Linked DNA regions of Homo sapiens. The protein of the gene in region 2 purifies or fractionates together with the protein of the main gene of each other region. This does not show direct contact. Each region holds a gene or a part of one and is shown on either strand. Other genes may lie near its edges. The genes, in order: FNDC3A and SLC26A4.

Evidence for each region.
Region 1: the proteins of SLC26A4 (region 2) and FNDC3A purify together in Homo sapiens (affinity purification with mass spectrometry; 2 studies listed by BioGRID and IntAct, with this or other methods). This does not show direct contact.

The regions. Positions count from the first base shown.
Region 1 is NC_000013.11:48,978,186-48,995,897, reverse strand, and holds part of FNDC3A (fibronectin type-III domain-containing protein 3A), read right to left. Parts: intron 1-17,712. UniProt on the Homo sapiens protein: Mediates spermatid-Sertoli adhesion during spermatogenesis.
Region 2 is NC_000007.14:107,698,547-107,709,274, reverse strand, and holds part of SLC26A4 (pendrin), read right to left. Parts: intron 9,193-10,728; coding exon 9,100-9,192; intron 8,175-9,099; coding exon 8,079-8,174; intron 7,449-8,078; coding exon 7,218-7,448; intron 4,945-7,217; coding exon 4,890-4,944; intron 1-4,889. UniProt on the Homo sapiens protein: Sodium-independent transporter of chloride and iodide. Mediates electroneutral chloride-bicarbonate, chloride-iodide and chloride-formate exchange with 1:1 stoichiometry. Mediates electroneutral iodide-bicarbonate exchange.

The DNA.
Region 1 (17,712 bases), on a different chromosome or scaffold from region 2:
ATCACCTGTGGTGGAATTTCCTGAGATGAAACTCATGGGAATCACTCTGCAAAACTATCCTATCATTTCTTATCAGAAACCAAAAACAAATATTTCATAGACTGTATTTAACAATAAGAACAGGATATTAGCTTATTTTATATTTTTGCCAAAACTAATTCTTTGAATTACCCTCTTTGATGTCAACTGTACTGCAGAAAAATGGCTCTTAAAAATATAATTACATGCATTATTTCAGTTCACCTTAAATGTCCATATGTTAATGTGAAATTTTATGAAGACATAATAAGCAATCTTGTTATCTTCTATATTTATAATAGAAATGTATATTGGTAGAGAAAGTGAGAAGGGAGGAGGATGGTAAGAAGACAGTGCTATTAATCATTTTCAATGACTGATATTAAATTTAAAAAAAGACAGCTTTTTATAATTCAAAAGATTTATGCTTAATCTAGTTCCTTGCTTTTCTTTCTCTCCCCATGCTCACTTTTTTCATATCTTTGGATACTGGAAGTATAAAACAGTACAAGATTTGGTACACAAAAAGGCTACAACTAAGATTGTTATGCTAAAAGAAAAAAAAAAAAGGCAGTCCTCAATCAAGAAATAGGCTCCCTTACAGTATTTTGTTAGAAGTCAGATATATCTGAAAATATTAAAAAAGAAATAAATAAAAAGGCCTTTCACTCTTACAGTGGCTCACGACTGTAATCTCAGCACTTTAAGAAGCTGAAGCAGGAGGACCACCTGAGTCCAGGAGTTTGAGACCAGCCTGGGCAACATAGAGACCTTATTAATATTATTATTAGTTGTTTTAAAGTCAGATATAATTGGAAAATATTTTCTCACTGAAACACCACAATAAGTGATGATTTCATTCTCAGATCATGATGTAAGAGTTAAATTTAACCTACATCTTTCTTAAAACCTTTTATTGTGGAAAACTTCAAACATACACCAATGTAAACATAATAGTATAATGAACCCCATGTACTCATTACCCAGCTTCAACTCATGACCAGTCTAGTTTCATCTATACCCCACTTCCTGTCTTGCAGTATTATGAAACACATCTAAGACATTCCAAAACTTCATTTGCAAATATTTCTTTTTTTTTTTTTGAGATGGAGTCTTGCTCTGTCACCCAGGCTGGAGAGCAGTGGCACATCTCGGCTCACTGCAACCCCCGCTTCCCAGGTTCAAGCAATTCTCCTGCCTCAGCCTCCGGAGTAGCTGGGATTACAGGCATGCGCCACCACGCCCAGCTAATTTTTGCATTTTTAGTAGAGATGGGGTTTCACCATGTTGGCCAGGCTTGGTCTCAAACTCCTGACCTTGTGATCTGCCCGCGTCGGCCTCCCAAAGTGCAGGCATTACAGGCGTGAGCCACTGCGCTCAACCACAGCAAATATTTCAGTATGTATCTCTGAAAGACAGGAACTCCTTTTTAAAACATAATTACAAAACCATTACCATACATACACTTCAATAATTCCTTAAATCATCAAATATGTAGTCAGTGTTCAAATTTTGCATTGTCTTGTTTTTATTAAAACTTGTTTGAATCAGGATTTGTATCAGATGTGCACACTACTATTTGCCATGTCTTTAAAAACCTCTTTTAATCTAAGTACCATCCATTTGACTGTCAAGCCTTTAATAATGTTTTAAAAGCAAGTAATTTTTTTTATTTCTGAAGACCACATTGGTCTACTTTTTTATTTTTGAAAAAATCAATAATTTATATCAGTCCTTAAAAGTGACTTTAACTAGATCATATATAGCTGATGATCTTTTCATCTGGATATATGAAGAGACAATCAATAGAGGTAATTTAAAGAACATTAGCAAGATTACACTTTCCATTTTAATTTGATTAGAAAAATCTCAAATAGTCAATTTCTAAGATTAACAAATGTAATATCATTCTAGTGAAACACAGTTTTCTATATCTTTATTCATAATTGCTGTTAAGATACTAAAACTTCATTACTATCTACCATTATTTTGCCTAAGAGCACATTCTGGGCACATTTCACTCTCTTGATCAAAAATTTAAAAAGGAGTCATGGAAGGATTTTATATTATGAGGATTTTTTTAACCCACAGAAAAGCTGAAATAACTGAACAGCAAACACCCATATACTTGCCACCTAGGTTCTAAAATTGACAGGATTTAATTGCATGTATTCCTCTAGCGATCTTTTTTAAATGCACTTCAAAGCAGCAGACATCAGTATACTTCACCCCTAAACACTTTTGCATGTGTTACTAGCATTCAAAATTTTTAGTTCCTTAAAAAAAAGTTCATGTATGGTAAAATGTACACATCTTCATTAAAAATTTTTTTGTCAAATTCCTTTTACCAGAAATGTACAAATCTTAAGTGTGCTATCATATGAGATTTTTAAAAATGAAACTACTATAAGTATCTAAGAATCTAAAGTCCTATTGTTGCTCTAAGATCACAGCTTTCAAATCCTGGTATGTATCAGAATGACCTGCAGGGATTATTAAAACAGATTCCTGGGCCACACATACAGAGTTTCTGACTCAACAGGTGTGTGGTGGGGCCCAGTAAATCACATCTCTAATAAGTTCCCAGGTTAGGCTGATGCTGCTAGTCTCTGGGCCATACAACTCTAAGACTAAGTAAGTTTTTACATTAAGTACTAACTGATAATAAGGATGTAAAGTTGATAACAATGTAAGGTGTATACCTCATTCTGGAAAGCCTCATCCCAGATGTGAATACATTATCCTTCAACGAGAAACAGATAAAAATACTGATCTAAGGATAAGAAAGTATTCGTAGAGGAATCAAGTTTAATGAAGAATTTTTAATTGCCTTTGGATATTATGGTCAAATCAATATACTAGGAGAGTATGATATACTATCCTTAGATTGAAGTTGCTATTTCCTGTAGATTAAACAAAGTTGAAACTTTCAAATACTCCTGGGAAATGGCAGAGTAATGAGTTAAATGTATTAAACAAACACGCATCAAGTAGTTGTTATAACTACTTGGTTGGTGCAAAAGTAATTGTGGTTTTTGCCATTACTTTTAATGGTACAAATGGTACTTTTAATTGAAAGCAATGGCAAAAACCAGTTACTTTCGCACCAACCTAATACAATGTGTCAACTACTCTTGATTTTTGAAATAGCTTTACTGAGGTATAACTGACATATATCAAATTGCACATGTTTAAAAGTGTACAATTTGATAAATTTTGACACATAAATACACCTGTGAAACTGTTACCATAATCAAGATAATGAACTTACCCGTCATCTCTCAAATTTTCCTACTAACCATTTGTAAACTGGAGACTTTGCATTTCCATGAACAATGATGTTGTTTTCATGTGCTTATCTGCCATCCAGGTATATTTTTGGTTGACTATTTGTTGGATTATTTTGTCCATTTAGTTACTAGACTGTTTTCTTATTATTTAGTTTTGATAGTGCTTTATATATTCTAGATAGCAGTCCTTTACCAGATAAGTGATTTACAAATATTTTTCTCCCAGTCTGTGGCTTGTTTTTATATTCTCTTACCAATGTCTTTTGAAGTTTTAAATTATGATAAAGTACAATTTATCGATTTGTCATTTTATGAATGGTGCTTTCAATGCTATACTTAAGAAATCACCTAATGCAAGGTCACAGAGATTTTCTCCTGTTTTAAGAAATTTCATAGTTTTAGGCTTTACATTCTTTCTACTTTCCATTGAGAGGGGTATTGAAATCTCTGCTAAAATTGCATTATTTGTATACAGACAATCCCCAACTTGTGATGGTTCAACTTACAATTTTTGGACTTTATGATGGAGCAAAAGAGATACACATTTAGTAGAAACCATACATCAAGTATCCATACAAGCATTCGGTTTTCCACTTTTCAGTATTCGATAAATTACACGAGACATTCAACACTTTATTATAAAATAGGCTTTGTGTTAGATGATTTTGTTCATCAACCATATGATAATGTAAGTGTTGTGAGCACATTTAAGATAGGCTAGGCTAAGCTACGATGTTCAGTAGGTTAGGTGAATTAAACTCATTTCTGACATATTTTAACCAGGTGGGTTTATTGAGACATAACCTCATCATGAATTAAAGAGCATCTGTATTTCTCTTTGCAGTTCCAGCATATATTCAGAAACATTCTCTCTCTTTTTTTTTTCCTTTTTTCTTTTTTTTGAGACAGGGTTTTGCTGTGTCACTCAGGCTGGAGTGCAGTGGTGTGAGCATAGCTCACTGCAGCCTCAACCTCCCAGGTTCAAGCAATCCTCCCACCTCAGCCTTCCTAGTAGCTGGGTCTACAGGCGTGTGCCACCACACCCAGCTAATTTTTGTATTTTTTTGTAGAGACGTAGTTTCACCACATTGCCCAGGCTGGTCTCGAACTCCTGGACTCAACTGATTCAACCCCCTCAGCCTCCCAAAGAGCTGGGATTACAAACATGAGCCACTGCCCCCAGGCCAGTTCCTATACTAGATGCATATTTATAATTGCATGCCCTCTTAATTAATCCCTTTACTAGTATGAAATAATCCTCTTTATCTCTGGTAAGAATTCTTTGTTCTGTAACCTAACTTCTGGTTTAACTTACTGATTTCAGTTTTCTTTTGGATAGTGTAAGCATGGCATATCTTTTTCCATCCTTTTAACTCACTTAAAGTGGATTTCTTGTAGATGTGAAATATTTGGGTCTTAATTTTAAAAAATTGTATCCAACAATCCCTGACTTTTAATTGTGGTGTTTAGGCCATTTATATGTAATGTGATTGTTGATACGACTGGATTTACATCACCATCTTGCTATTTGTTTCAAATGTTCTTTGTCCCCTTTTCCCTCTTCATCTGCTTCATTTTGAATTATTTCCTATTATACCATCCCCTCTCTCTTGTTGATTTATAGGCTACAACTCTTTGTTACTTGAGTGGTTTCTTTAAAATTTACAATACACATGTTTTACTTATTACTGTATACCTTCAAGTAATACACTACTTCAGGAATATGTATCAGAACCTTACAACAATAAATCTGCAATTTCTCTGGGATTTTTGCTATTATTGTATATTTTACTTTTACATGTTTTAAACCTCATGTTGTCATTTTTTAGGGGAGGGCAGGGTCTCTATTGCCCAGGCTAGAATGCAGTGGTGTGATCTCAGCTCACTGCAATCTCCGCCTCCTGGGTTCAAGCGATCCTCCCAACTTAGCCTTCCGAGCGGCTGTGACTACAAGCATGCACCACCATGCCTGGCTAATTTTTTTTTTTTTTTTTTTTTTTTGGAGAGACAGGATTTCACCATGTTGCCCAGGCTGGTCTCAAACTCCTGGGCTGAAGCAATCTGCCTGCCTTGGCCTCCGAAAGTGCTGGGATTACAGGCACGAGCCACCACACCTGGCAACTGTCATCATTTTTATATTAAACAGTCATTTGTCTTTTAAAGATATTCAAATAATAATTTTTTTTAAATCCTATATATTTGCCCAGATAGTTACCACTTCCAGTACTCTAAACTCCTTGTGGCCAAGTTTCCATGTGGTTTAATTTTCCTTCTGCTTGAAGGACTCTATTTAACATGTCTTTTAGTTCATAAATGAAAGTGATAAATTATTTCAGCTTTTGTATATTTGAAATCTTTATTTTGCCTTTATTTTGAAAGACAGTTTGGGTAAAAAGTCCCAGGTTGACAGTTTTTGCAAAAAAATGTTTTAAAGATATTGCTTCATTGTCTTCTAGCTTACATTGCTTCTAATGACAGATCTGATGTCACCCTTATCTTTGTTCTGTTTTTCTTTGGCTGCTTTTAAGATTTCCTTTATGGGCCAGGCACGGTGGTTCACGCCTATAATCCCAGCACTTTGGGAGGCGAAGGTGGGCGGATCACGAGGTCAAGAGATGGAGACCATCCTGGCCAACATGGTGAAACTCCATCTCTACTAAAAATACAAAAATTAGCTGGGCATGGTGGCATGCACCTGTAATCCCAGCTACTCGGGAGGCTGAAGCAGGAGAATCGCTTGAACCTGGGAGGCGAAGGTTACAGTGAGCCAAGATTGTGCCACTGCACTCTAGCCTGGCAAAAGAGCGAGACTTTGTCTCAAAAAAAAAAAAAAAAGTTATCTTTAAGTGATTTGATTATGATGTGTTTTAGCAGAGTTTTATTCATCTTTCTTATGCTTATTGTGCTTATTGGTTTATAGTTTATATCTATTTTGGAAAATAGCCATTATTTCTTCAAATACTTTTTCAGTTATTGTCTCCAAATTCTATTTTCTTCTGTGCTTCATTTTGGATAGTTTCTATTGCTGTATCTTCATGTACACTTATCTTTTCTTTGACAAAGTCTAACATGCCATTAATGTAGTATGTCTTTGACACGTAATTTTAATCAGACAGTATCTCTATTTAACATGTTCAATCTTTTTGTTAGCTTCTCCAACAGTCATAACTGTTTTAATGACTATCATCATCAGTATCATTTGAAGGCCAATTTCAAGTGATTAATTTTTCTCAATATGGTTTGTATTTTCCTGCTTCTTTGCAGACTCAGTAATTTGAACTGCATGTAAGATACTGTTAACTTTATCTTGTTGGCTGTTGGATATTTTTGTATTTCCATAAATAATCTGGAGATTTGTTATAACATGTGGCTAAGGGACTCGGACAAAGTTTGACTCTTTGGGACTTGCTTTTACGATGGATTAGGCAAGAACAGAGCTGCATTTAATATGTAATTAATTTTTCCCCACTACTAATGCAAAACCCTCCAGAGTACTCTACTGAATGCCTTGTGAATTATGAGGCTTTCTGTTCTAGCTAGTGGAAACAGGCACTTCTTCTGGCCCTGTGTGAGCTTGGATACTGTTCTATATACAATCTTTTTAGTTGGCTCTTTCTCCAGCCCTGTGTAGTTTCCTTAAATGTATATGTTTATCCATACTTTGCTGAACACTTAAGGTTTTCATGTCTGATAGCTTTAACTTATAAATTACTATAAGCTTTTTCTTATCTTTTTTTTTTTTTTTGAGACAAGTTCTCACTCTCTCACCCAGGCTGGAGTGCAGTGGCACAATCATGGCCCACTGCAGGCTCCTGGGCTTAAGCAATTCTCCCACCTCAGCCTCCAAAGTAGCTGGAACTACAGGCATGTGCCACCATGCCTGGCTTACTTACTTATTTACTTATTATTTAGTAAAAACAAGGTCTTGCTATGTTGCTCAGGCTGGTCTCAAACTCCTTATATCAAGCAATCCTCCCACCTCAGCCTCCCAAAGTCCTGGGACTATTAAGTGTGAGCCAAGCACCTGGCCATACTACAAGCTTTTAAATTATAAATTACTATATTATGGCTTTTATCATTCTCATATGCAATTTAGATTCTGGAGAAGGTTGTTTAACCCTTTAATGTATAATGATACATATCTGCAGTAACAATATTTTTGGCTTTACCTGTTGCTAAAGTAGGTGTATTCATGAACATTCCAATTTGGCTTGGATGTTGACATTTCATCAGTGATGTACTGTTTATGAATTTATGCTTTGGGGTGGAGAGTTCTGTAGATGTCTGTTAAGTCCACTTGATCCAGAGCTGAGTTCAAGTCCTTAATATCCTTGTTAATTTCCTGTCTCGTTGATCTAATACTGACAGTGGGGTGTTAAAAGTCTCCCACTATTACTGTGTGGGAGTCTAAGCTTCTTTGTAGGTCTCTAAAAACTTGCTTTATAAATCTGGGTGCTCCTGTATTGGGCACATACATATTTATGAGAGTTAGCTCTTCTTGTTGCATTCAGCCCTTTACTATTATGTAATGCCCTTCTTTGTCTTTTTTTATCTTTGTTGGTTTAGAGTCTGAAAAATACAGAACGCTTCATGAATTTGTGTGTCATCCTTGCACAGGGGCCATGCTAATCTTCTCTGCATCGTTCCAATTTTAGTATATGTGCTGCCAAAGCACGCACAAATTTATGCTATTTAAATAAGTTATAATGTATTTTTGTTTAAGTGCCATAACATTTTTATATACAGGGCAGTGATTATAGCCATAGTTTCATAATGCAATAGGTCAAACCATATGAAACTGCCACTGAGGTCAAAAACTTTAAAATATCAACAATTTAACCTAATGAAAGTGTTCATACACTTACAAAGAAATCAATAATTTACACAGATTGTTAGCAACAAATTTACTGTAACTTATTTATCTTATTCTTCTCCAATCCCACATCCACTGGAAAGAAGGAAAGAGTAGTGTTGGTCGGATGGATAAGCCTCACTCTTTCATGTCCCTTAAGTGAAGAAAGGTTTAAAAGGGAAGAGGGCATTCAAGCCACCATCCTCACCCTTCTTAGTCAGATATACTAAATTTAAATTTAATTAGACATTTAGGAGATACAGCCCCCATTCTCCCACTAAGAAATTATACCTTAATACTAACATGAAAATCCTGTTAAAATAGACTTCAAAGGAAATCTTGATCAAAAAGATACTTCCAGTCAGGAAACTATGGAAACAAGAGAGAAAGAACTGCTTCCAAGAAACGAACCCCAGTCCATTAAAGGACTGATAGTGTGCACATAGATCAGTTTTTCTTTCAAGTAACATCTTCTTAAGTTCCACATATAGCTCTAGCTGTCTAGTGTCTTTGGAGCACATAGGCTACCCTTTAGAGCCAAAAGGCAACTACACCTGGGACAATCCTATTTTCACTTCCAAATATTTTACTGTCCTTTTTAGAAGTATTATATAAAACTTTAGTTTTTATATTATAGATTGTTAACTTTGCTCTTGTAGAACTTCAAATCCATTGGTGTGATTTTTGGACTGAAGATTAAACCTGTAGTTTCTGAATATTTTCTGGCCACAGTAATACATTGGTAACTAAATTCACAACAGAAAGTTTGAGTTCCTGTGTAAAAGCTACTGTATTACTATAACTTAACCATATTAACATGTTTCCTTCACTAATTCCTCCAAAATAATTTTATCATAATAAAATCAAGTAACATTTCTTTATTTCCTATAAGTAGATTTGTCTGCAGAATCCAGTAGTCCTTAAAGTAGTCCTTTCTGAGATGACCAGATTCTTTGTTTATAAATCTACAACTATGCCTTGGTTAAAGATTGCCTCTAATCATACTCATCTTCCTTCAACTTCTTTTTAAAAAAACCTTCCGGGCCAGGCGCAGTGGCTCACGCCTGTAATCCCAGCACTTTGGGAGACTGAGGTGGGCGGATCATGAGGTCATGAGTTTGAGACCAGTCTGACCAACATGGTGAAACCCCGTTTCCACTAAAAAATACAAAAAATTAGCCGGGTGTGGTGGCACGTGCTTCTGGTCCCAGCTACTCAGGAGGCTGAGGCAGGAGAATCTCTTGAACCTGGGAGGCGGAGGTTGCAGTGAGCCGAGATCACGCCATTGCACTCCAGCCTGGGCGACAGAGCAAGACTCCGCCTCAAAAAAAAAAAAAAAAAAAAAAAAAAAACAACTTCCTTCTCCTTACTCTGTCTTCCTCTTAAGCTTCTGATTCCTCTCTTGACCTCTATCATTAACTGTCTTGAAATATTAGGTTTTAATATTAAAGGGGAGGATCAAAATATCCAGACATATGGGACTTTAAAAAAACTACATTCGAAATTATAACTTTATATTTAAAAAAGCAAAGTGTTTTTATAACAGAAACTCTGAAAATAAAAAGCACTTTATTTTGTCTTGGTTGGCAGTTGTAGTTATAGAGGTTAAGAATCACTGGTAGAATTCTCACTTCTTTAACCCACTTTAACACAGTTTCAGATCCAACACTATACAGAAATTGCTATTTCTAAAAACACCAATGACTTCAGACACCAACTGGGAAGCTTCTGCAAGTGAAAGGAAGTGCTATTAAAAATTACGCAGGGAAAACCGACATAAATCAAAGCTGTCCACCCAGGAGGAATGGTCCTAATCAGGACCAATCATAACAAAGCCTTGCATGTGTTGTTATGTTTGTTATATCACAAAGGCTGTACTTGCTTATACTTGAAAATACACATACAAACATTGTTTTTAACTCTTTCCTGATCCCTAATCCAACTCCTATTTCTATAGCTAACAACTGTGGTGTACCCTTCCAGTCTTTTTCTCTGTGCTTACCTGTGTGTTAGGTTTTCTGGGATTGGTTGTTATGTAAGTGAAATCACATACACTGCTTTTGTGTATTGTATTTTTTTTGTGTGTGTATGAATTGTGTCTTTGTGTATGTATTATATTGTATCTCGCCCTTTCATGTAAAATATCTTAAGAAGTACATCTATGTCTATTTCATGTTTTTTCATAAGTATCTAATATTATAGTGTAAGGGCACACCATAATTTAACTGTTCTAATGATGATCTTATTACTTCCAGTTTCCCATCATACATTTTCTCCTCTGCATGGAATAATCATGCAATACTCTCTATTAATGAATGATAGCATTTCTATATTACAGACATATAGAAATAAAACTTCTGGCTCAGGAGAACGTACATTTGAAATGGATAGATACTGCCAAACTTTTCTCCTAAAAAGATGAAGCTATTTATATTCGGTTCAATAGTATTCCTTCAAAACTTAACAGGCTACCTATATTTCTACCTCTATAAATTTCCTGCTTACATTCTTTCCCATTTTCTATCAGGTTATCTTTTTCATATTGATTTGTAGGTACACCTTATATACCTTGAATATTAATTTTGTCTATTACATGTCGAATATTTTATCCCAGTCTATTGCTTGCCTTCCTTTTTAAATGGCATCTAAGTTTGATGTCTCACTTAAAAGGCCTTCTCTACTCCAACGAGTTTTTAAATTAACTTTTAAAAGTTTTGTCATTTTATTTTTTATTTATCAACATTTAGTCCACTCGGGGCTGGGCACAGTGGCTCACGCCTGTAATCACAGCACTCTGGGAGGCTGAGGCGAGCAGATCACAAGCTCAAGAGATCGAGACCATCTGGACAACATGGTGAAACCCCGTCTCTACTAAAAATACAAAAATTAGCTGGGCGTGGTGGTGGGCACCTGTAATCCCAGCTACTTGGGAGGCTGAGGCAGGAGAATCGCTTGAACCTGGGAGGCGGAGGTTGCAGTGAGCCGAGATCACGCCACTGCACTCCAGCCTGGTGACAGAGCGAGACTCCATCTCAAAAATAAATAAATAAATAAAAATAAAAAACCATTTAGTCCACCTGGAACTTAGTTTTGAGAGTGTCACGAAGTGGGTACCTAACTATCTTTACTTCAATTAAACAGTTGATTGTCCCACACCCTTTATAGACCAGTTCTTCCATTACTCATTCATTTATCATACAATTCTTCTTTATCCATGTTTATCTATGGATCTTCTCCTGAATTTATTATTCTATTCCTTTGATCAATATGCCTATTCCTACTCCAAATTCTTATTTTAATAATTGTAATTTTATAATGTTTCGACCTTTGATGGGTCCCATTTATTATACTTCTTTTTGAAATTTACTTGGCCATTCTTGTGCATGCTCCCTTCTCAAAACTTGAACCATCAGTTTGTCAAATTCCATTTTAAAACTCCTGTTGAATTTCTGATTAGAACTGCATTGACTTTATAGAATAATTTAGTAAAAGCTGTCATTTTTATGGCATTAAGTTGACACATTCATGAATACTCCTCCATCCATTCACATCTTTTTGCAGTTTTCTTCACATAGCTATTACACATTTTAAAATCTTAAGTATTTTATAGTTTAGGCTGCTACTTCTTATTACTGTATTTCATAGTTGGTTATTGTTGATATATAAGAAGGCTAATGAATTTTCTAACTTTATCTTATAGCCAATCAGCTTACTGAAATTTTTTAATACAAATCTTTTTCTGTTATCTCATATTTTTTTGCTATTTGTATTTGTATTATATTTATTTGTATTTGTAAGCAGTCATATCAACTCTAAATAATAGTGATACATTTCCCCCCTTTATTTACAGGTTAATTATTTTTCTTGTTCTTAATGTATTGCCTAAGACTTTTGAACCAATGTTGTGTTCCTATCTATTAATGAAAGTGCTTCTATTATTACTCTATGACATTTGGTGATAATAGTATCTACCGCAGAGAGATGTTTTAAGGCTTAAGTAAACTGATACATATAAAGTTTTTTGCAATAGCACCCAGAATACAGAAAGTGTTTAATGCCTATTAATCATATTATTTACTAAGTGCCTTTTATTTGTCAAGCACAAATAAAAGTATATGCATGCACCATTGCAGAGGTTGGCAAACTAAAGCCTGTGGGCCAAATCTGGTCTGCTGCCTAGTTTCGTAAATGAAGTTTAATAGGAACACAGTCATGCCCATTGTTTATAATTTATCTATGGCTGTTTTTGTGCTCCTGTAGCACAGTTTAAGTAGTTGCAACTGAGCCCATATGGTCCACAATGCCTAAAATATTTACTACCTTCTCTTATATTAAAAAAGTTGCTGACTCCAGTAGTACTGGTCAAACTCAAGGAGTTCATAGTTGAATAGCTGATTTAGACAAGTAAAAAATATATATACATTACAGTATGATATATACAACCCAGATATTCTGTGGGTATTATGGAAACATTTTGCATTTAAATATTAAAAGACAGGAAGGACTCACACAAGTGAAAAGACACAAGATATTTTAATTATTTAAAAATATGTATTTATTTACATATCATTATCTCTCATCCCATTCTGTAAATTTCTAAAGGGGAGGGAGTGTGACATTCATTTTTGTGACATTCAACATTCATATTCTAAGTATCTAGGACATTTTAAATGTTCAACAAATGATAGGCAAATGAATAAATGAATGATATGCAGGATGCCTGAGTGACAATGATTAGGTATGTCTGTCAAAGTTCTAGATATAAATATCCTATGGCAAGCATTTTACTTGTCATGTTAAATAGGATCTTTTAATTCTTGTACAGTCTATATTAGGAGATAGCTACTATTATTACTACACTGTAAAATGAACGAACCAAGGCTCATACAGGTAAAGTAGCACACTCATGTTTCTATACAGCCAGTATGAGAAGTCAACTAACAATCCTGTGGCTGCCTAATGAGAAATATGTTCTCTACACTATATCACAAAGTTGTAAAGAGGTAAGAAATGATGACACAATAGGATATCAACAGAGTATGGACTCTCAAAGACAAAGGAAATTATAATTAATGCAGCAGGAATTGTATTGTGATTTCGATTTCTAAAACTGGGGAATGATCTGAATAAATTCATGTTTTTTAAATATCCTGGAAGCAGCCTAAAAGATGGTTAGAGGGGCAGTAGCCCCTACATTTTACCCAAAGGCTACTCTGTCACACACACTAGGCCAGTTTTAGTAAGGTTCAAGTGATTAAAACAAAAATGCGAACATACTATTTCAGGAATACCAATCTGAAGCATCAGGAAAAGCTGATCCTAATAGTTACTAAAGAAACAAAAAGGTACTTCATAAACTATGAAGGTACTATGCTAAAAATTTTTTTTAGGTATATATTACAAATGAAAATATTACATGGAAAAAAATCAAGTCATAAGAACAAAGACATAATTGAGAATGTCTGTCTTAAGAAAACAAAAAAAATTTAGAAAATTTAAACATAAAATCGCAAATTATGAATTTTCACTTTTTATTTAAGCAAATCTTAAGAAAAACTGATTTTAAAGTAAATGAAATGACTAATCCTTCAAGTTATGGCTCAACAAAAGTAGTTGCTGTATATGGCATATACTTCTATAAAGCAAAGCACGTAATTACTTTCTAATAAAAGTCTAAACTGTGATTTAAAGTGTACTTAAATATCTGTTTAGAACCCCTAGAGAAGTAAGATTTTTTTGCCTCCCAAATTATGTGTCTGTCGGTTTAGAATATACATAAACCAATTAAAGTAATCCCTCACTGAAGAAGTAGTGAAGCGAAATCATTTAAGTTTTTAAAAGTTCAAATATATATTAAAATATGGATTCTGAGGAAAGAAAACAGATACAACACTTTTTTTTCCCCCAGCATTTCTGATAGAGGCTGATTAACATACACAATCTAATTTACCAAACTTAGGTAACTTTTACACCAAGGCTTACTTCAAAGTATACATTGCACTTTGTATTTCTAGCAACTAGCACATAAGAGATCTCAAGAAGTGAAGGAGAAAGAGATATGGAAGTCAATCAGAAGTATAGTTCATCTGTAAAATGAGAATACCACCACATATCTGGCAGGTTTGTATAGGATTTTAAAAATAAGCAAGTATAGGTTCTAAAATTCAATGAGCTCAACTGAATGTTTACTGGAAACATACTATGTTTACAGAACTTTGGAGGATAAAGCTTGAACTCTGGTCTTAAAAAAAAAAAAAGGCTGCATTGCTTCCAATATAGTAGCATTAATGTAAGCACTTTTATGGTATGTATTTTAATGCTTTTATAGTTTCCAACATCTCTGTGGGTTCTCACAATATCTTTGAGGAAAACAGGATAGATATTATTCTCTATTTTAATGCTTAGAAAACCAAGATTGCAAGAAACTAACCCAAAATCATATAGGTAATAAGTGGTGAAGTTAGAACTAAGAACTAGACTTTTGAGTCACCATCCAAGGTACTTTAATTTACCTCTTGTTTAGCAAATGGAAACAGCTGGCATGGTGAAGCTGTTTCAAGCATTCACAAAAAAAGAGGGAGGGCATGAATTTCTCCTTAAACTAAAATTTAAAAAGTAAAAATTGTATTAAGTAGCAATTTATGAAGGCTGTTATTTAAATCAAAAGCTTTATATTGCCTTAAAATTACGGTACTGTATGTACTAAGTATGAAAAATGCTAATAATAAATTAAAGTACAAAAGTTAAGTTTCATGATTTTGTTTGGTTGGTTTTAATGTTTTTAACAGGAAGAAAGAAGCATCACTGATTCTGTCCAGGTTGCTTCCCATCTTATACATCTGTACTTTTTCCAGCACCTAATACTAACCCTGATATATGGAATGTACTGATGCCTGCTTAATGAAAAAATGCTCTCATGATGTATTCTTGCTCTCTTGATGCCACAAAAAATACAGTTGCCCCAGCCAATTGATTTGTGCAGCCACAGCGTGAGGCATCACTATTCACCTGGTAATGGCACATGAACCACAGTATACTGAAGGAAACAGAACTGCCTTAGAAATAGATATCTATAAATTTAGAAACTTCAGAGATGTTTCATGTAAATTACTTTTCAAAACAGCTGATACTTATATCCTTTAAATCACCATAACTTATCTTAAAAAAATCTTAATTATTTGTAAAGAGATCTCTAGGTCTTTCTTCCGTGCCTTAATGTGCACATGATATAATCTTTTCTTGATGACTCAAGCTCATCAATGTAAATATCAATTATTAGACTGTTCCATAACAGAGTGATTCTTTCTGGAGTACTGCAGAATGTCCAACTGCTTGTCCCTTTATTAACTCATCCTAGACTACTTCTAAAAACAAAGATCCCTACTGCCTGCTCCTCTGTTGTCACTTACAGACCACCAGCATCCTAGACAAGGTTTTTAACCTGCCAGCTGTTTTTAAAAATGTAAAACCAGCACAGGCAGTTGATACACCTAACCTTATACAAATTCTAAATCAAGCCACTGTGTAGCTATTTTCACTGTAGTAAGGCCTGACTCAAAGGCTTTTCGTCTTTCACTTCCTAATTCTGAGACCTATTCTAGGCTCTTGTTAGAAGTCTGGCCACAAAATAACAATTACAGAAGCACTTATTTCTACATACTTTTTTTTTAGGATAACATAAGGAAAAATATATACATGATAGTCATAAAACGCCCAAACCACCATATAGACAAGATGATGCAAGAAATTTCACAGTATGTGCTATATGGACAATTACTTTGCCAATTATTACCTAGCAGTCAGCAAACTAGGTCCCCTGGCCAAATCCAGTCCACAGATGGCTTGTTTTTGTTTGGCTCTTGAGACAACAATGTAAAAATTTTTACGTTTTTAAAAGATTATAAAAAACTAACAAACAAACAAGAACATTCAACCGAGACTGTAAATGGCCTGCAAAACCTAAAATATTTAATTATCTAGCACTCTACACAAAAAGTTGGCCGACCCCTGACCTAAGCCATACAAACAAACACATATAAGCTATCCATTATACATAAAGCTTAAGCTATTAATATGTCAAAGCTGAGGTATAGTTCTTTCAGTGATAGGTTCCTAATGATACAAACTGTCTTGTCCAGCTCTGCCTATTTTCCTCTTCTGATGCCCTGGTGCTTAAGCTAACATCTCGACCTAACTTTCTTTCTTTCTTCGTCCCAATTTCTGTCCTTGGATGCTCTTGGACTACTTATTCTACTACTACTTCCAACTCTGCCTGTGAATCTCTTTTGGAATGCCTTTCCTTTTGTTATCTAAATCATTTCTAAGTTTCCTCTGACTCCCTCCAAATGCCTTCCAGGATTGTTCTAGCTCTCACTGGCTTCACTTCCCTTTAAATTCCAGTTGGTGTCACACAACTTAATAATACCATATTATAATTTTTGCTAATGATACTATTAGTCTAGTACCCCCAACTAATTTGTAAACTACTTGAAGGAAGGAAGACATCACACTATGTTTGTATCCCCACTTTAATAACATTGCATCACCCTGCAAGCACATGACATCTCCCAGGTGTAGTTCTCAATCTTGGAGGAAAAAATAGCCCAAGGACTGGTAATGGGTGATAAGTGATTGGAAACATTGAAAGATGACACCCACAAAGGAACTTGATGGAAGACCACAGGTTACACAGAAAACTTGAAAGTATATATTAAAGACAAGCAAAACCACAACAGTGGGAAGACAGAAAGGTAAGAATAAAGATATAAAAAGAGACCACTGAATAATTATCTGAAATAAGACCAAAATATTAAGAAAATTATAAAAGCTCACAATACATGTAAAAGTACAAAATTTGCCTTTCAACATTAATGGCCACTAATTTCGTTTTAACAAGTAGTTTTTGACATTCACACATATGGGAGCCATATTTCTTGTTTTGCAATGTGATAAACTGAAGCAGTAAAAGGCTCAATGGAATAAATATGCACCATATTCTAAACCTTCGGAATTACAATATTGTGAGTTTATTTGAAGTCCGCTAGGCAATGCTAAAAACAAAACAAAAAAAACAAAAGCAAACAAAAAAAAACCAGAAACACTAATCACTTAGTTATCTGGCTAATAAAATTGGAAATCATGTGCATATCCCTACACCATTCTCAAAGACACGATCTAGATTCATTTTCATTCAAAAATGCACCAACAATGTTTCAAAAAAAAAACGTTTTTGGTTACTTCATCAAATTGTATTTTAAAAATACTGGCAGATTATAAAATACACAAGCCTTGGATGTCATGAACATCTTAAAAAATGCAAATGTTTTAAAACAGCGCAAATATTACTAAAAATTGATAAAGTATAAATTAAATGCTCTTTGCCTAAAACTACAAAAGACAATGAGAATATGAATCATGCATTCCCTCTTTTTTTCGGGGGGTTAAGGATGTCTCAGCCCTTAGCTATGTCTGGCTGGTCAGGGAAGAGGGAGAAATTTTTAAATTAGTAATAAAATATGCTTACTATTATATTGTAGAAATGTGACTAGTAAA
Region 2 (10,728 bases):
AAAGAGAACTGGGAGGTTTCATCCCCACACATGGCTGGCCTGCAGCCACTGACTGACTCATTACTGGGGGAGAAAGCAGGTCCTCTTGCCTCAAGGAGGCATAACCTTCTGGTACTCTTCCTGTGGTGGTGCTCCCTGTGAAATCAGGGATCTACGCTGGACTTCAGAAACCATGTCTTTGATCAGCTTCTTCCCCTTCCCTATCCTGCTCCCCTCACTGCTTCATAAATTTCCTCAGATGTATTCTCAATAAATCGCTTGTGCAAGAATCCCCATCTTGGGCTCTGCTGCTAAAGAATTCAACCTAAGCCTTAGCACTTTCCTACACACATACATTCATAAAGAAACACACAGAGACTCACACCCTTGAGAGTCCTCCTGTTCTAAGGAATCTAAGTAATCTCCAGCTTTGCTCTCCTCATAACAACATCCCCCCATTGTCAATATTCACCCCACCCCCACCCACTGTCAAGATACACATTTCCATACATTACCAGCTCTGTGGCACAAATTGGAAGTAATATCTTTCTGGGTTCAAAATGTTCTCAGAGTTTTTATGCTTTTTGTTTTTTAAAAAAAAAATAATAGAGACGGGGTCTCACCATGTTGCTCAGGCTGGTCTCAAACTCCTGGCCTGAAGTGATCCTCTGACCTTTGCCTCCCAAAGTGCTGGGATTACAGATGTGAGCCGCCATGACCGGCCTATTTATTTATTTAAAACTTAACTCTAGCTTGGCAATCAGAGGTTATTTAAAGGTTGTTTCTAAATATGGACTTATGAAGGAAATCAAAACAAGGCAGGAAGGAACCACTAGGTAGGAAAGATGTGAGAAGAAATTTACAAGTATGAAGAGATAAAGAAAATTGAAAAGAGAGTAATTTTTTCTTTTGTATAGGAGATAACCTTATATGGTCAAAATGATAAGGAGAAAAGAAAAGTAAATCTTTGTCCTAAGGTACAATGCCAATTTTAAAAAAGGAAGTATAGGACCAAATGAAGGTTTAAGCAAGTTGTAGAAGGTTTGTAGAAGATAAATATCATGAAAAATTTTATGTGATTGAGTTGGCTAAAAGTAGAAGGGAATTATTTATAAGTTTTTCTAAAAATTGAGCATTAATATTAAAGTACACTGATGGAAGGCTAAAGTGTGGGCCTATGTGTTGGAACAATAGAGTTTTCTCAGAGGATTGGTTTACTCTTAATAGAAAATTGTGAGAGGATTTTCTCTTCCAGGTAACTGGCCTAGAAAACAGAGATTTCATGTTTCATCAATATAACTCTTCTTGTGCTTTTTGCCTTTGAACTCTTTTTTCACTTTGGTTTTATTTCATAGTGACCTATGATCCGATTTTGATCAAATGTTTTAAACCTTTGGTATTTGACAAACTTCTCAAAAATCAAAATTAAGTCTTTTTGACCTTGAACTAACTTTGGGATGTTCCAGAGGACCCTGGAATTTCTTAAAGAATCTGTAAAAGAGAGATGTTAAACCAAATGGCCTTATCTGATAGGTTAAATTATATGGGAAGCACTGTTAAAATAAGAAATGATGTTTAACTTTCTTTGTGCTATATTTTTATAGATATGTTATTAATATGTTCCAAAATTATATAACATTCCTAGAAATGTGATAGGTCTTGGTATAAATGCTACCAGTCATAATTTTGGTTATTTTAAATTGTTGTGTGCCACAGAAATATCCAAATATCCTTGTCAATTGGGTAACTCACATCAGATCTTTAAATATAGCCACTTTAAGTCTTGTTGTCCACAGTTAATTGTTTTGTTCTGATACTTTTTCTGAAAGCTCTTTGTAAGCCATTATAATTCTAAAGTGCTGTGACTTCAAAGAGTTATATGGGAAGAATGAAAAGAACTCTGACAAATACAGGTTTCTAATAACTTTGAATTCATACCATTCGTTGGAATTAAACTACCAGCCAAGATCAAACAGAGCAAGAATTAATTACATGAGACTGAATGAACTGATGGAGAAGAATTACAGGTTTTATGGCTTTTTTATTTGAAACATTGCTGGTTCTTTTAATATTTGTTTTCCAGATCTAAAGAAAATTTTTCTTTAAAGCTATCTGCAGTTTACAGCCACTTGGTTAAGCATACTTTTTTTTTATTTTTTGAGACAGGGTCTCACTCTGTCACCCAGGTTGGAGTGCAGTGGCACCATCTGGGCTCACTGCTACCTCCACTTCCCCAGCTCAAGTGATTCTCAGCCTCAGGCTCCATGCCCAGCTAATTTTTTGTATTTTTTGTAGTAACGGCGTTTTGCCATGTTGCCAGGCTGGTCTCAAACTCTGAGCTCAAAGCAATTGTCCGCCTTGGCTTCCCAAAGTGCTGGGATTACAGATGTGAGCCACCGCACCCAGCCTTGTTAAGCATACTTTCATAAACAAAAATTGAAACATTTGCTTTTCCTCTCTACCTGATCCTTCCAGAATTTGGAAACTCTTTGTGAGTATTCTTATTTTTATGGCAATATGATTATTTACATGAAAGTTCAATAGAATCTGTTCTTTTAAATAGAATACAATTGGAAAACATTGGTTATATTATCAAGGCTTTGAATAGAATATCATATTTGAAAATGTGCACAGAATTCCTGGCTTCAAGGGCTGCTAGCCTTACAATGAGTGAATAAAAAGTCGTTCCTTCCTGGGAGGCCCAGTAACTTCAAGATATTAGATACATCAGGCAAAGCCTAATGTCTGCCTTGGTTTGACTTCATAGCATCAAGACGTTTTAAAAAGTCCAATCTGAGATTCCTTGTCAAAATTTCTATCAAAGCAATTATTTTTTGGAGACATGGTCTCACTGTGTTGTCCAGGCTATAGTGCAGTGGCTATTCACAGGCACAATCATAGTGCACTGCAGCCTTGAATTCCTGGGCTCAAGCAATCCTCTCACCTCAGCCTCCCAAGTAGCTGGGCTCACAGGCAAGCAATACCTCGCCAGGCTTGGCAAAGCAAATTTGAAAGGAGTCACCTATGTAGTTATTCTTGCTGTACTGTGTAAATAATCAATCAGGCCAAGTTTGAGACCAAACTTATTTTGTAAACAAATTGGTCTACCATGATCGTCTTTGATAGAAATGGAGGTGACTATAGAAAGAAAAACATATGGTTCAAAAGAAAAGCATAGTAAAACTGTTCTTAGACTGTAGCCCTGTTCAATATTTATGAGTTTTTATTATCTACCTGTAGACTGAGCTGGATTCTTAATTCTTTTAGCTTTCACTAATATCTGGCTACAACACTCCAATGAAGACCAAGAACTACTCAGTTCCTGAAGCTCTGTAAGCTGAAGCTGAGCAACTCAGTGTAAATTTCAAGAGATGAATCTCATGCTTAAACTGTGGGCCACATAGAGAGTTCGCCAGAATGCTGGATGCCACAACTAGAGACAATAAAACTACAAACCAAAACAAGAAGTTGTCAACTTCATGCTGTAGACAGCTCCAAGACTGTCAGAACAAGACTCCCTATCATAAGATGCTTATCCCTTTTAATTTTCCCTTACTTGTGCCTACCTCTTTCACTTGGCAGGATAGTGCTGTAGTTAAAACTTCACAATGAGTAGCTTCTTTGGGTAACTTACACTTTCTGCTTTAATTTAACCAGTCATGGAATGCTAGATTACCTGCTAACTCAACAAGGAAGCATCTGTGCAGTTGGGTGACACTTCTTGTTCCACATATATAAATACATCAGGTACTACAGAGAAGACTTCTTGGTTAAAACAGGTAGTCTCCTTGTCAGGCTATTCAATTTTAGTTGGTTTGATTCATGAGAATCCTGGCTAAGGAGCATACTATAAACCCTTGGTATTATCTCCCTGATAGTCATAATAGCAGTCTTCCTGGTACATTATACCCTCTCAAAGTTTTAAATGTTTCCAAAAAGCCACCTGTCAGACATCGAATGGTCTCTCTCTGAAACAACAAAAACTCAGAGACATACATGATAATGAGGAGGGCACCATAAGCTACACATGACCTCCTGAGACCAGAAACCCAAAATGATGGTAACAGAGTAGCACTGATCTCCTACATTTTGTTCACTCTTACCTAGGTGAGAGCCTGATCAAAACGGGGAAAATCATCAAACAAAAATGGTAAAGGCCATTGTTTTAGTCTTCTTGAGCTTTGCCCTCCCAGAGCTTTGCAGCTTTTAGTAGCCAGAACGAAGGAGTAGAGCAGCCTTCGGTGGCTCAGGGGCCAAGCAGCTGTGCCCATCCTGGGGTCATGCAAGGCACAGGCACATAGTAAAATAAAAAATAAAAATAAAAGGCCATTGTTTTAGACTAAGCTCCCGCACTAGACGACAACAGACAAGACTAAAAATCAAAATGGAGTCACTCATGCTAAAGTTTCAAGTTATCAAACCTAAACTAAATTGTTATCTGATACTTGAAGAAATCAGGAGAGAGAGGTAATAGCAAATTTCCTAAAACAGGACAGTTTAAATTTCCAGTTGGCATAATAATAAAGCTTCCTCTGCAATAATCCTCATACAAAAAAGTATCCTGACATGACCTCATGTTAACTAATCCATTATTTTCCTATTGTTCTGTCTCACTGTCTCTGACTTACAAGAAAGTAACTTTGAATGGACTAATATACTCTTTGTTGCTTGCTTTTGCTGTCTTTGGCCTTTTCTGTGTATAATACTGAACTCCTGCTTAGTTCCTTGGAACACTTATTCTGTTTTATGGAATGAAGCAGTGCCAGATTCCAGAACTGCAAATAATGACAATTGAGATCTTTAAAAGAAAAAAAAAAAAGGCCTTCAGACATAATGTGACCACAGTCCCAGATAGGAGAAAGGGCTTACGGGAAAGTCTTACAGGTAGATATGTAGATATATGTATTTACCTTGAAGTGATGCAAAATACACATTCACATCAATTCTTTGGAATTCTTTGACAATCTAAAAATAAAAAAGGAGAGTTTGTAACAATTAACAACCTTATCTGCCCATAATTCAGTAGCATTCAGTTACTTGCTCAGGAGAAACATTATTACTTTCATGGTTAATCAGGACTTTAAGGAAAGGTTATTATTGCAAAACCATGGAGGTTTTCAAACTACAGTAATGGTATAATTAGGATTATATCTCAAGAGATGGCAACATCCAGCGCTCAATAGCACAGCACTTGATAGCGTGGAGGTGCTAAATAAGCATTTGTGGAAAGAAGAGAGTACAGGAGGCTTCTTAATATAGGCCCTGCTGATTGGAGAAGAGATATGGGTGTGGCTATGCTTATCGGGTTCAAAATGTTACTATTGACCTAAAAGTCAAGGCCTCTATTTTGAATGTCAGTGTCCTACTGTGATTTTATGCTACAGTTTTACAAGATGTTACTCATTGGGAGAAACTGGGTAAGGGGTATATAGGATCTAAATATTATTCCTTACAACTACATGTGAATTTACAATTATGTCAAAATAAACATTTAATTTTAAAAAGTCAAGACACAAGACCCATAGTCAATAATAAAAGAGAATTTGAGAATTATGGAGGAAAACAAATCAAGACCTCTGTTCAAGTATAAAGTTTGGAGTCTTCTTTAGCTATCATAACTGTCATTATAATATTTGAAAGTAAATATTCGTTGTGTGGGAAATATTCTGGCATTAAATATGTTAAGACTGTCCCCAAAAGTAATTCATTGAACTCTCTGGCCAATATAGTCTACAATGGATCTCAGCCAATGCTTAGAGTGAAATGTACAACAAAGAACAAGAGTGATTTCAAATGAGCTAATAACAAAATCTGCTAAGAGAACTAGAACAGAACCTGTCAGCATATTCTCATACTCTTTTGCCAAGCACAATCACTTCTCTACCCTACCTACCTAGTACCCACATCCTGGAATCATTTCCTCCCCTTATAGAGGTAGCAAAGAAGCCTTAGCTAAGTGGAACCTCAGTTAGGAGTCAGCTTTATATTATTACATCTGATTGTTGGTGTCTTGACCTGCTTACTTTTCTGCCTGACCCTTTTGATACCTACCTGAAGCTTCACTGAACTTGATGCTTCAGGTGATGTCCTATTCATCTTCTTTGGAGCACTTACTACAATTGTTATTTATAAGATGACTTAATGTTTGCCTTCTCCTCCAGACTGCTAAGTCCCACGTAGGTAGAAACTGTGTCTACTTCATCACTAGTCTCTTGTGCCTGGCAGAGTGCTCAGTACACATTAGGCATTTCACATCTATTTGTTGACAGAATTAATGAACTTCAGCTTGCATAACTGGTTTCTGATATCATTAATGTTTCTATCCTGCATACTCCTCAACTCTTGCTTTGACCTTCCAGATGTCTGACCTGCTTCCTACTCTAACCTCTTAATAATGCCTGGCTTTTCCAGTCCTAACATACACCTGGTATTCCTTATCCTGTTGCTGTTAACATAACAAATAGAAATGTAATACTTAATAAACTTTTGCCCATTTTTTTCTTTTCATATACCACTTGTTATACATTCTCAGAAAGATAAAACATAATAAATGTGAATTAATTTGCTGGGGAGTATCTTTGAACCAGATATTCTTTTTTTTTTTTTTTTTTGAGATGAAGTCTCACTCTGTCACCCAGGCTGGAGTACAGTGGCACAATCTCAGCTGCAACCTCCACCTCCCGGGTTCAAGCGATTCTCCTGCCACAGCCTCCTAGGAGCTGGGACTACAGGTGTGCGCCACCATGCCCAGCTAATTTTTGTATTTTTGGTAGAGACGGGGTTTCACCATATTGGCCAGGCTGGTCTTGAACTCCTGACCTCATGATCCACCTGCCTCAGCCTCCCGAAGTGCTGGGATTACAGGCGTGAGCCACCATGCCCAGCCTGAACCAGACACTCTTCTAAACACCTTATATCTATTAGCTTATTTAATCCTTGTAACAACCTGTGAAGGTAGATACCATCATTACCTCCATATTACAGATGAAGAAACTGAGATATAGACAGATTAAGCAACTTGCCCAGGGTCGTACTGCTAGTAAGTGGTGAAGCCAGTATCTCCCCCAGGTAGTCTGGCTCCAGAGCCTATGCTTTAAAATATTACACTTTTTTACAAAAGCATTCACCTAGAAAAATTACAAAGCCCATGTATTTGCCCTGTTGCAATACTGGACAACCCACATCATTTTACTATTGCCAAAGCTCCAAATGTATAATTCAGAAAACCAGAACCTTACCACCCGCAGTGATCTCACTCCAACAACGTCCAGGAAAGATATAGCTCCACAGTCAAGCACAAGGCTATGGATTGGCACTTTGGGAACGTTCACTTTGACTGGAAGCTCAGAGTTCCAATCCACTTGAATCTCTATTTCCTTGGTTGGGATATCAAGTTCCTCCAGATCTTCAATATCCTCATCAGGCTCAAAAGCATTATTTGTTGAAACAGCATCACTTATGATGCCATTCTAAACGAAGAAAACACTGTCAACTTAATTGTCAAAGATTTGAAATCTTTCAACCATTCATATCAAATTATCCAAAAGACCTACACACTGTTCCTTGGTAAGCAAGACATCAAGGAGATGAATTTTTAAGGATGGGTTTCACCTCAGCCCAAACTTTGATGTTGTCTAGGAAGAAAACTGGGAGAACAGAGGAGCCAGGAAACTTTTGTTTTCTGGATGATTGTGGAACTTTGCCAAGAAATACACTGGCCAGAAGAATCTGAGTAAAAGTTAACAGCTCCAAAAGTTTATGGACTTAGACTGCCTTCTATGGTGGGTAGTTTTCTGGCATTGAATTTGCACTTATTTTGTTCCTTTCAGTAAAAATAAAGTATAGAAAATAATGCAGACACTGTTCATGGTGGGGAAAAAAATCACATCCTGTGTTTCCAGGCAGCGCTGCTGATTTTATTTCATTCCCTTCCACTCCCGCTTGCCTATAAGAATAGCTCAGTTGTTCTTTGATACGTACATGTCATTTGTTCATTCACATCTGGATACTAAAGAGGATAGATTTAATTTTAGACCCTCTAACTGCTCTCATCAGGGAAAGGAAATAATTTAAGGGGGAAAAGAAAGATGTCATCTCACCTTTGTTGCTCTTAATTGTCCACTTTTTATTAGTTTCTGTATTTTCCTCAGCGCTTTCAGCCTCTTATTATATACTCTAATGGCATCAAATCCAACCTTTGGAAATAAATGTCAAGTTACTTAAAATGCCTGGCACCTAAAGCTTATTAATGGCAACTGTTATCTGGAAAGGCTATTTCTCAAAGGGTATAATTCCTTGAGCTATCCTGCCAAAAAAGAAATTGTAAGGTCTGATGGAGTAGATCTCTGTCTACTCCCAGGCTACCCTACTCCTACCCAGAAGCTCTGAGAAGACAGTAGCATATCAAAGGCTCCAAGACAGTAAAAGACAAAACAGAAACACACACACACCCCAAAATACCCTCTTTAGTTTAAGTCTGGGTTTTCCAAATTCCCTTGGTATCACAGAGCCCTTTTGTTATTGCAAAATCTGTGAACATTCCTCTGAATCAGTTTGCCCTGGAACTCACTTAGAAAAACACTGATTTAGAGGCAAACTCCAAGTTCAAAGCATAGCATGGCATTTGGTGCCAGGATTTTCTACTTATTTATTCCACTAGTATATTTTACTTTTTGCTGCAACTGGGCAACCCTACCTCCAATACATGTTTCCACTGTCTCTCAGCTCACATAGTTCTCAAACACTTGACATGATTTCTTTCCTTCAGCCAACTGCCGCACAAAGCCTGTTAGTCCAACTAACCTGGATCTCTTCCTTCTATGAACTCTCAACTGTCTATACTACTTATTTGAAACTTACTCAAATTCTGCCTAGAAACATCTCTAATGTTTTTGTCTGGCATAGTTATTACTACCTGGGTTTTAACATATGTGTTTTTTTAATCCCCAAATAGACTGTAAATTATTTGAAGGCAAGGATGTTATATTTTAATTCTCATTGCCCTACACAAAGGGAAGAGGGTCTAGGGCCTATTCCTGATTGGACCCCAGTAAATACTTGTAGAATGAATGAAGTCTCAAAAGAGGTTAGAAAACAAATTTCTAGGGATAAAATACTTACTGTGGACTTGATACATTTTTTAAAACCATCGACATTGCCATAGAAAATAGGACTGGAAAATCTAAGAATCTTCACTCCTTGAGGTTCTTCAATCTGGCATTAAAAGAAATTGTCTGGGATTAAATAATTTCAAGCCTCAAGTATTTAATTACATTTCTGGCTACTTAGCAAGGAGTCAAGTCACAGTTGCTCAGAGGAGCTGGGTAGCAGCACTCAACTTTTCTTTCTTTTCTTTTTTTTTTTTTTTTGAGATGGAGTTTCACTCTGTTGCGCAGGCTGGAGTACAGTGGCACAATGTCGGCTCACTGCAACCTCCACCTCCTGGGTTCAAGGGATTCTCCTGCCTCAGCCTCCCAAGTAGTTGGGATTACAGGTGCTGCCACCACACCCAGCTAATTTTTCCATTTTTAGTAGAGACAGAGTTTTGCCACATTGGCCAGGTTGGTCTCAAACTCCTGACCTCAAGTGATTCACCCGCCTCAGCCTCCCAAAGTGCTGGGATTACAGGTGTGAACCACCGTGCCCGGCCTCTACAACTTTTCTTGAATAGGGAGACAACAGGTTACAAAAACTCTTGGACCTCTACAGTCTCATAGAAGGTCAAAGTTAGAAAGGGCCTTAGAAAGCAATTTATTCAACCCTCTGATTTCCAGAAAAGAAACTGAGGCTTAGAACAGTGCCATGATTTGCCTGAAGTTCATACCACTGACCCTCCTGATTTTGCTAACATTCTTTAAAAGTAGCAAAGAAAAAAAGCAAAATCAATGGGATTTGCAGAACTGAGGCCTATGATATCATCTGTTCTCACCCTGACATACAATGGCCACACCCAAAATAGAACCCAGGAATCACAGAATCATAGACTTTTCTAGTCTTCAGGAATCAGCAATTTTAGTCTAGCTGCTTCAGATGAGAAAACTGAGGTCCTGAGAGGCTGAATGACTTGGGCAAAGTCTCACCAAGATGGAGCCTAGAAGTCAGAATTCCCTAACTCAGCTTAGAGCTCCCTCCCCAAAGCCAAAAAAATCTCTAAATCATTTTAGCTCTTAATGGCACTTGGCTCAACATAACAGAAAGATCACGGAAATAAATTAAGTAGCAGCTACTGAAATCCCAGTTTCAAGGTCCAACTTTTTTTAATGTTAAGGTAAAATTAGACTACAACTTCCTAGGGTTGATATTATTATTATTATTATTTGCTAAATTTGTATTTTCTTGATTTACTTTCTCTGCTTTTTTATCTTTGTTTCCCCTAGTCACCACTAAGCAATTTTATTTGCAGGTGACACAAGTCCATCAATGGGATGTTTAATTTCTTTGTTTTTCATTTCCTGTGTCATATTTTATTTCTTCTAATACCAAGGATAAAGCAAAGTGTCAAATAATAAGGTCTTGGTCATAGAGAACTTGATAATCTCTTGTTAGAACTGAATAAAGAAAATCTTACAGAAGATAAGAATTATATACCAGATAAACAAAATTTTGGATGAACATCTAGAAATTGCCTATTATTTTTAAATTCCTCTTACAACAGTTTTATATTAAAATGACATTCAGCTAGCCAGGTGCAGTGGCTCACGCCTGTAATCCCAACTCTTTGGGAGGCCAAGACGGGCAAATCACTTGAGC